Linked DNA regions of Homo sapiens. The protein of the gene in region 1 interacts with the protein of each later gene in a pairwise test. Each region holds a gene or a part of one and is shown in the gene's direction. Other genes may lie near its edges.

What was found. Proteins that work in one complex are often made in the same cells at the same time.
Region 2: the proteins of MYOC (region 1) and ITGA7 interact in a two-hybrid assay, tested with the Homo sapiens proteins (one study listed by BioGRID).

The regions. Positions count from the first base shown.
Region 1 is NC_000001.11:171,635,169-171,639,540, reverse strand, and holds the end of MYOC (myocilin precursor), read left to right. Parts: intron 1-818; coding exon 819-944; intron 945-2,831; coding exon 2,832-3,616; 3' UTR 3,617-4,124; downstream 4,125-4,372. UniProt on the Homo sapiens protein: Secreted glycoprotein regulating the activation of different signaling pathways in adjacent cells to control different processes including cell adhesion, cell-matrix adhesion, cytoskeleton organization and cell migration.
Region 2 is NC_000012.12:55,697,905-55,701,404, reverse strand, and holds part of ITGA7 (integrin alpha-7 isoform 2 precursor), read left to right. Parts: coding exon of another isoform or gene 1-26; exon of another isoform or gene 27-55; coding exon of another isoform or gene 56-79; intron 80-250; coding exon 251-506; intron 507-518; exon of another isoform or gene 519-839; intron 840-1,011; coding exon of another isoform or gene 1,012-1,143; exon of another isoform or gene 1,144-1,378; coding exon of another isoform or gene 1,379-1,415; coding exon 1,416-1,535; intron 1,536-2,487; coding exon 2,488-2,695; intron 2,696-2,828; coding exon 2,829-3,022; intron 3,023-3,378; coding exon 3,379-3,467; intron 3,468-3,500. UniProt on the Homo sapiens protein: Integrin alpha-7/beta-1 is the primary laminin receptor on skeletal myoblasts and adult myofibers.

The DNA.
Region 1 (4,372 bases):
CCCAAGTACCTAGGACTGCAGATGCTTACCACCATGCCCAGCTAATTTTTCATGAATTTTTAATTATTGAAATTCAGACATCTAAGAAGATGCTGAGGACTGTCTCCATATTCCTGAAATTACGACTCACCTATTCACAAACCAGCCCTTCTAGTGGAATTAAAATATTATTTGATTTTGAATACCCTACTCTAAGGTAGGCACATTGCCCTGCAATTTATTATTTATGAGGTTTTTAATTATGGAATTGTTCAAATATTCACAAAAGTAGAGAGACTACAATGAACTCCAATGTAGCCATCACTCAGGCCCAACTGTTATCAGCACAGTCCAATCATGTTTTATCTTCCCTTCTCTGACCCCCAACCCATCCCCAGTCCTTATCTAAAATCAAATCTCAAACACCATATCTTTGGGAGCCTATTTATTTAGTTAGTTAGTTTTCAGACAGAGTTTCTTTCTTGTTGCCCAAGCTGGAGTACAATAGTGTAGTCTCGGCTCACAGCAATCTCCCCCTCCTTGGTTCAAGCAATTCTCCTGCCTCAGTCTCCCAAGAAGCTGGGATTATAGGCACCTGCCACCACATCCAGCTAATTCTTTTGTGTTTTTAGCAAAGACAGGGTTTCACCATGTTGGCCAGGCTGGTCTCGAACTCCTGACCTCAGGTGATCCGCCTGCCTCGGCCTCCCAAAGTGCTGGGATTACAGGCATGAGCCACCACGCCTGGCCGGCAGCCTATTTAAATGTCATCCTCAACATAGTCAATCCTTGGGCCATTTTTTCTTACAGTAAAATTTTGTCTCTTTCTTTTAATGCAGTTTCTACGTGGAATTTGGACACTTTGGCCTTCCAGGAACTGAAGTCCGAGCTAACTGAAGTTCCTGCTTCCCGAATTTTGAAGGAGAGCCCATCTGGCTATCTCAGGAGTGGAGAGGGAGACACCGGTATGAAGTTAAGTTTCTTCCCTTTTGTGCCCACGTGGTCTTTATTCATGTCTAGTGCTGTGTTCAGAGAATCAGTATAGGGTAAATGCCCACCCAAGGGGGAAATTAACTTCCCTGGGAGCAGAGGGAGGGGAGGAGAAGAGGAACAGAACTCTCTCTCTCTCTCTGTTCCCTTGTCAGAGCAGGTCTGCAGGAGTCAGCCTTTCCCTAACAAAGCCCTCTATCCTATCACCCACACTTGGGAGGCTGGGCTGGGCTGCACAGGGCAAGATGAGAGATGTGTTGATTTCATCCACTTGATTGTCATGTAGAATTAGATATACTTGAGAAGTTACATTTTTCAGTAGCGCCTTCATATCTTTATTTTAGGGACAGGTATACACCAAGCACCATCTCAGCCACAATCTGTTACTAACAGTATGTTTTCTGAACTTTGGCCACTTAGGAAAAGTACAGTTTGGCTCTCTCCAAAGTGTTCCCTGAAAGTCCAACTTTATGACTAATACTGTGATTTCCAGAAACTTTGACTATCCATGTTATTGACAATGATTACTAGCACTGAAGGGCATGCATGCAAGTAGGGGTTATGAAATATTTAAAACACGGTTCTCTAAGATATGAGCAGCAAAGTGTTTCTACCTTCTATGAGGGAACCGAAGGTGCCATTAAAAGTAGAGAAATCTGGACCAGGCATGGTGGCTCATGCCTGTAATCCCAGCACTTTGGGAGGCTGAGGCGGGCGGATCACTTGAGGTCAGGAGTTCAAGACCAGCCTGGCCAACATGGTGAAACACTGTCTCTACTAAAAATACAAAAATTAGCCAGGCATGGTGGCAGTCATCTGTAATCCCAGCTACTTGGGAGGCTGAGGCAGGAAAATTGCTTGAACCCAGGAGGCAGAGGTTGCAGTGAGCCGAGATCACACCACTGCCCTCCAGCCTGGGCGACAGAGTGAGACTCTGTCTCAAAAAAAAAAAAAATACAGACATCTGTTGTGATTCTGGTAACTCTAAATTTTCAACCGTCTCTTCACTACATTTAAAAAATTATTTTCTAAACCAAATTAGCCAGGTGTGGTAGCAGGCACCTGTAGTCCCAGCAACTCAGGAGGCTGAGATGGGAGGGGTGCTTGAGCCTGGAAGGTCGAGGCTGCAGTGCACTGTGATTGCACCACTGCACTCCAGCCTAGGTAACAGTGCAAGACCCTGTCTCAAAAAATAATTATTTTCATGTTTATTATATTAAAATGATGTATGAAATATGTGACTCATCAGGGCTTGAAAAACTTTGTTGTATGGAGATTATTCTTATGAGTTGATTTTTCTCTCTCCTACCTTATAGTAATGAAATAAACCAGGCATGAAAGTCACAATAAGTAATACAATGAACACCCATGGGTCCCTGCCCAGCTTAAGTAGAATATTACAAATGCAGTTGAAGCCCTCTGTGCAACTTTCATCCTTACAACTGATACTGAGTGAATTGTACTTTAAATATTTTATAGCTCCCACTCCCATGCATGCCCCTCAGTGATAGCAATAATTGTCAATAACATGAAACACAGATTGATCATATAGCATTTACCATATATTTACTCTATACCAAGCACTTAACATATATAATTACATTTAAAATTTACAACAGCCCTACTACCCAAAACACTATTAGTATCCCCTTTTACAAATGCGATAACTGAGGCGTAGAGAGCTAAGTAACTTACTGAAAGTCACACAGCCAGCGGGTGGTAGAGCCTAGCTTTAAACCCAGACGATTTGTCTCCAGGGCTGTCACATCTACTGGCTCTGCCAAGCTTCCGCATGATCATTGTCTGTGTTTGGAAAGATTATGGATTAAGTGGTGCTTCGTTTTCTTTTCTGAATTTACCAGGATGTGGAGAACTAGTTTGGGTAGGAGAGCCTCTCACGCTGAGAACAGCAGAAACAATTACTGGCAAGTATGGTGTGTGGATGCGAGACCCCAAGCCCACCTACCCCTACACCCAGGAGACCACGTGGAGAATCGACACAGTTGGCACGGATGTCCGCCAGGTTTTTGAGTATGACCTCATCAGCCAGTTTATGCAGGGCTACCCTTCTAAGGTTCACATACTGCCTAGGCCACTGGAAAGCACGGGTGCTGTGGTGTACTCGGGGAGCCTCTATTTCCAGGGCGCTGAGTCCAGAACTGTCATAAGATATGAGCTGAATACCGAGACAGTGAAGGCTGAGAAGGAAATCCCTGGAGCTGGCTACCACGGACAGTTCCCGTATTCTTGGGGTGGCTACACGGACATTGACTTGGCTGTGGATGAAGCAGGCCTCTGGGTCATTTACAGCACCGATGAGGCCAAAGGTGCCATTGTCCTCTCCAAACTGAACCCAGAGAATCTGGAACTCGAACAAACCTGGGAGACAAACATCCGTAAGCAGTCAGTCGCCAATGCCTTCATCATCTGTGGCACCTTGTACACCGTCAGCAGCTACACCTCAGCAGATGCTACCGTCAACTTTGCTTATGACACAGGCACAGGTATCAGCAAGACCCTGACCATCCCATTCAAGAACCGCTATAAGTACAGCAGCATGATTGACTACAACCCCCTGGAGAAGAAGCTCTTTGCCTGGGACAACTTGAACATGGTCACTTATGACATCAAGCTCTCCAAGATGTGAAAAGCCTCCAAGCTGTACAGGCAATGGCAGAAGGAGATGCTCAGGGCTCCTGGGGGGAGCAGGCTGAAGGGAGAGCCAGCCAGCCAGGGCCCAGGCAGCTTTGACTGCTTTCCAAGTTTTCATTAATCCAGAAGGATGAACATGGTCACCATCTAACTATTCAGGAATTGTAGTCTGAGGGCGTAGACAATTTCATATAATAAATATCCTTTATCTTCTGTCAGCATTTATGGGATGTTTAATGACATAGTTCAAGTTTTCTTGTGATTTGGGGCAAAAGCTGTAAGGCATAATAGTTTCTTCCTGAAAACCATTGCTCTTGCATGTTACATGGTTACCACAAGCCACAATAAAAAGCATAACTTCTAAAGGAAGCAGAATAGCTCCTCTGGCCAGCATCGAATATAAGTAAGATGCATTTACTACAGTTGGCTTCTAATGCTTCAGATAGAATACAGTTGGGTCTCACATAACCCTTTACATTGTGAAATAAAATTTTCTTACCCAACGTTCTCTTCCTTGAACTTTGTGGGAATCTTTGCTTAAGAGAAGGATATAGATTCCAACCATCAGGTAATTCCTTCAGGTTGGGAGATGTGATTGCAGGATGTTAAAGGTGGTGTGTGTGTGTGTGTGTGTGTGTGTAACTGAGAGGCTTGTGCCTGGTTTTGAGGTGCTGCCCAGGATGACGCCAAGCAAATAGCAGCATCCACACTTTCCCACCTCCATCTCCTGGTGCTCTCGGCACTACCGGAG
Region 2 (3,500 bases), on another chromosome or scaffold:
GGAGATCTCCATTTGAGGGCAAGGAAGTGGGTGCAGACAGGTTGCTGGGTTATGCATGGACCTGTGTAACACTGGCAGGGTAATGGTGCTTGAGTGGTGCCGGCATAGGGGTGTGTGTGTATGTGTGCATGTGCATGTGCATGTGAGCACACATGTATCAGTATCTGCCAAATCTCTGCATATGGGCAGCATGCCTCAAGCAGGTCCCTGGCCCACAGAGTGAAATGATCCCCATCCCTTCCTCCCCCAGACCTGTGCACACCGATATGAGGCAAGGCAGCGAGTGGACCAGATCCTGGAGACGCGGGATATGATTGGTCGCTGCTTTGTGCTCAGCCAGGACCTGGCCATCCGGGATGAGTTGGATGGTGGGGAATGGAAGTTCTGTGAGGGACGCCCCCAAGGCCATGAACAATTTGGGTTCTGCCAGCAGGGCACAGCTGCCGCCTTCTCCCCTGATAGCCACTACCTCCTCTTTGGGGCCCCAGGAACCTATAATTGGAAGGGTGAGTCACTCCTCGGGAAGGGGAGAAGGGGACCAAAACCTCCTCTTACCTCAGAGACAGGGTTGGGGATGGCACATGGCCAAGCATGACCACATGTGCACTGCTGTATGGCCCCAGGGCACTGCCATGCCTTCCACCCCATTGAGCTAGTGCACACATGAATGGGGGGTGCCTCCTTTCCCTCGCACGGCCAAGTGTTCCTCAACATGCTGGCATGGGCCCCAAGTGCACGCTGGGCCTGCAGCTGGGGCCTGCATGCTCCAACACACTAGCCCACACCTCATCACTGCCATTCCCGTCTCCGCACGCTGCTGCTGGCTGAGCTGACACTCGGTGAGTGTGATGCCACATCTGGGGGACCCCAGGAAGCCTGGGTTGGGGACAGGGTGGGGAGAGGGCTAGAAAGAAGAGGCAGGGCTTCCCCGTGTGCCTGTCTAACTCAGTGTCCGGCCTGAGGGGTGTTCCTTGCGCCCTGCCCTGGGCACTAACAGGTCTGTCCTTGCAGGCACGGCCAGGGTGGAGCTCTGTGCACAGGGCTCAGCGGACCTGGCACACCTGGACGACGGTCCCTACGAGGCGGGGGGAGAGAAGGAGCAGGACCCCCGCCTCATCCCGGTCCCTGCCAACAGCTACTTTGGTAGGGACCTCTCCCCGGCCCAGAACTGCTCTAACCCTCTGCTCCTCTCTCTTGTCCTCTCTCTCCATGCTCCCATCCTTCTGTCTCTGTTTCTGTCTCTCACCTTGTCTCTCTCTGTCTTTCTGTCTCTGGCTGTGATCTCTCTGGTCTCTTTTTCTCTCTCCACCTCTTCTTCTTCCACCATTTTCTGGCCTTTCTGTGGCTCTGTCTCCCTACTCTGTGGCCCCTACTCTGGATGTCCCCTCCCTGGTGTCTCACCCCACCCCCCACAGGGTTGCTTTTTGTGACCAACATTGATAGCTCAGACCCCGACCAGCTGGTGTATAAAACTTTGGACCCTGCTGACCGGCTCCCAGGACCAGCCGGAGACTTGGCCCTCAATAGCTACTTAGGTTTGTAAGCTCCCACCTCCTGGACTCTAGGGGCATGGCCCAGCCTCCCCTCCTTCCCCAGGGAACTCGACCTTTGGTGCCTTATAATCTCCTCCTCCCCCAACACACACCCAGGGAGACATACATTGGGCCCAAATTGCAGAGAAGAGCTGGGTCCAATGATCAGGCCTAAGAGGAGGAGGCCCCCAGGGTGGTGGCCTCTGGGGCTGTGAGCCAGGGGTCTCCATGGAGGAAGATTCAGGTGGAATGAGAGGGCCAGGGCTGAGGATATTTTGGGAAGGACAGTCCTGTCTTCTAGGGGGACTTTCCCTGAGGGGATGGATGGTGGGCACATATTGAAGAAAGGGCTAATGTTGTTGGTAAGTCCCTCTCGTTGTCTCATCTGCATTCCTCTGCAGAGGAGGAGGAAACCAGGCCTGGGAGATGTTTGGGTGAAGCAGGCGCTCTCTCACTCCCCCTTGTCTCCCCCTCATCCATGTGAAGACTTCCCCTCCCTGCCAGGATGAGGGAGTTGGGGGAAAGAGGTGCACTGGGTGGGATTCGGGCCTGAGAGGGACCTCTAGCTCTTCTAGCTCCCTGGGTGTGGGCAGGGTGAGGCCACTGTGCTCAGCCTCCTACCTGGGCTCCTGGCCTTCTCAGCCATCACCTTTCTCTCTCTTGCCCAGTCCCTGAGGCTGACCTCACTGCACTTTTTGTGCCAAGCTTGTCTCTGGGCCTGGTGGGTGTGGGAGGCTGCCAGGCCCTGTGGGGAGGAAGAGCTATCCAGCTGTGGTGCTGATGACTTGGGGGGACCTATCTTTTGGCTCTTAACCTAGGGGAGGGGGCAGGGTGCAGGGGAGCTGTGACTTGGCTCTTAACCTGTAGGGAGGGGGCAGGGGCTGGGGGAGCTGTGACACACCCCAGCTTCTGAGTCTTGGGGTGAAGACTTAGGGGTAAGTCACCCTTCCCCCAGGCTTCTCTATTGACTCGGGGAAAGGTCTGGTGCGTGCAGAAGAGCTGAGCTTTGTGGCTGGAGCCCCCCGCGCCAACCACAAGGGTGCTGTGGTCATCCTGCGCAAGGACAGCGCCAGTCGCCTGGTGCCCGAGGTTATGCTGTCTGGGGAGCGCCTGACCTCCGGCTTTGGCTACTCACTGGCTGTGGCTGACCTCAACAGTGATGGGTGAGTGGGTAGAGGGCCGTGCCACCTGAGGGAGGCTGGGTCTAGTAGCCCCAGTCTGGCTGAGGCCACTTAGCCTCCTGCTGGCTCCTCTGGCCAGGGAGGACCCACACTGAATGTTTCCCTCTCTCCATAGCTGGCCAGACCTGATAGTGGGTGCCCCCTACTTCTTTGAGCGCCAAGAAGAGCTGGGGGGTGCTGTGTATGTGTACTTGAACCAGGGGGGTCACTGGGCTGGGATCTCCCCTCTCCGGCTCTGCGGCTCCCCTGACTCCATGTTCGGGATCAGCCTGGCTGTCCTGGGGGACCTCAACCAAGATGGCTTTCCAGGTGTGACGGGGAACTGGAAAGGCTCAGGGAGGGAGGGGCCACAGGAGGGATGGGGAAGCCCCTCAGAGGTCAGGGTGTGGTCTTCTGAGGACTCAGGGAGAGAGGGTCCCTGAGCTTATGTCTGAGCTGTACCATTTACCAGCTTTCTGACCTTGGCAAGTTCCTAACCTTTTTGCGTTAGTAATATCTGCAGGGAGTGGCCAAGAGGATTAAAGATGATGTATGTAGAGTGCCTGGGATTTTGTAGCCTCTCAATAAAATAGAAAACATACCTGAGTGACTGGGGGGAGTTGAGGCCTGGATCTTGTCTGCAAGGCCCCCAGCCAGCGTGACTGCCTTTTCCCTGTGCCCTGCAGATATTGCAGTGGGTGCCCCCTTTGATGGTGATGGGAAAGTCTTCATCTACCATGGGAGCAGCCTGGGGGTTGTCGCCAAACCTTCACAGGTGAGGGGAGTCGCTGGGATGAGGGAATGGGTG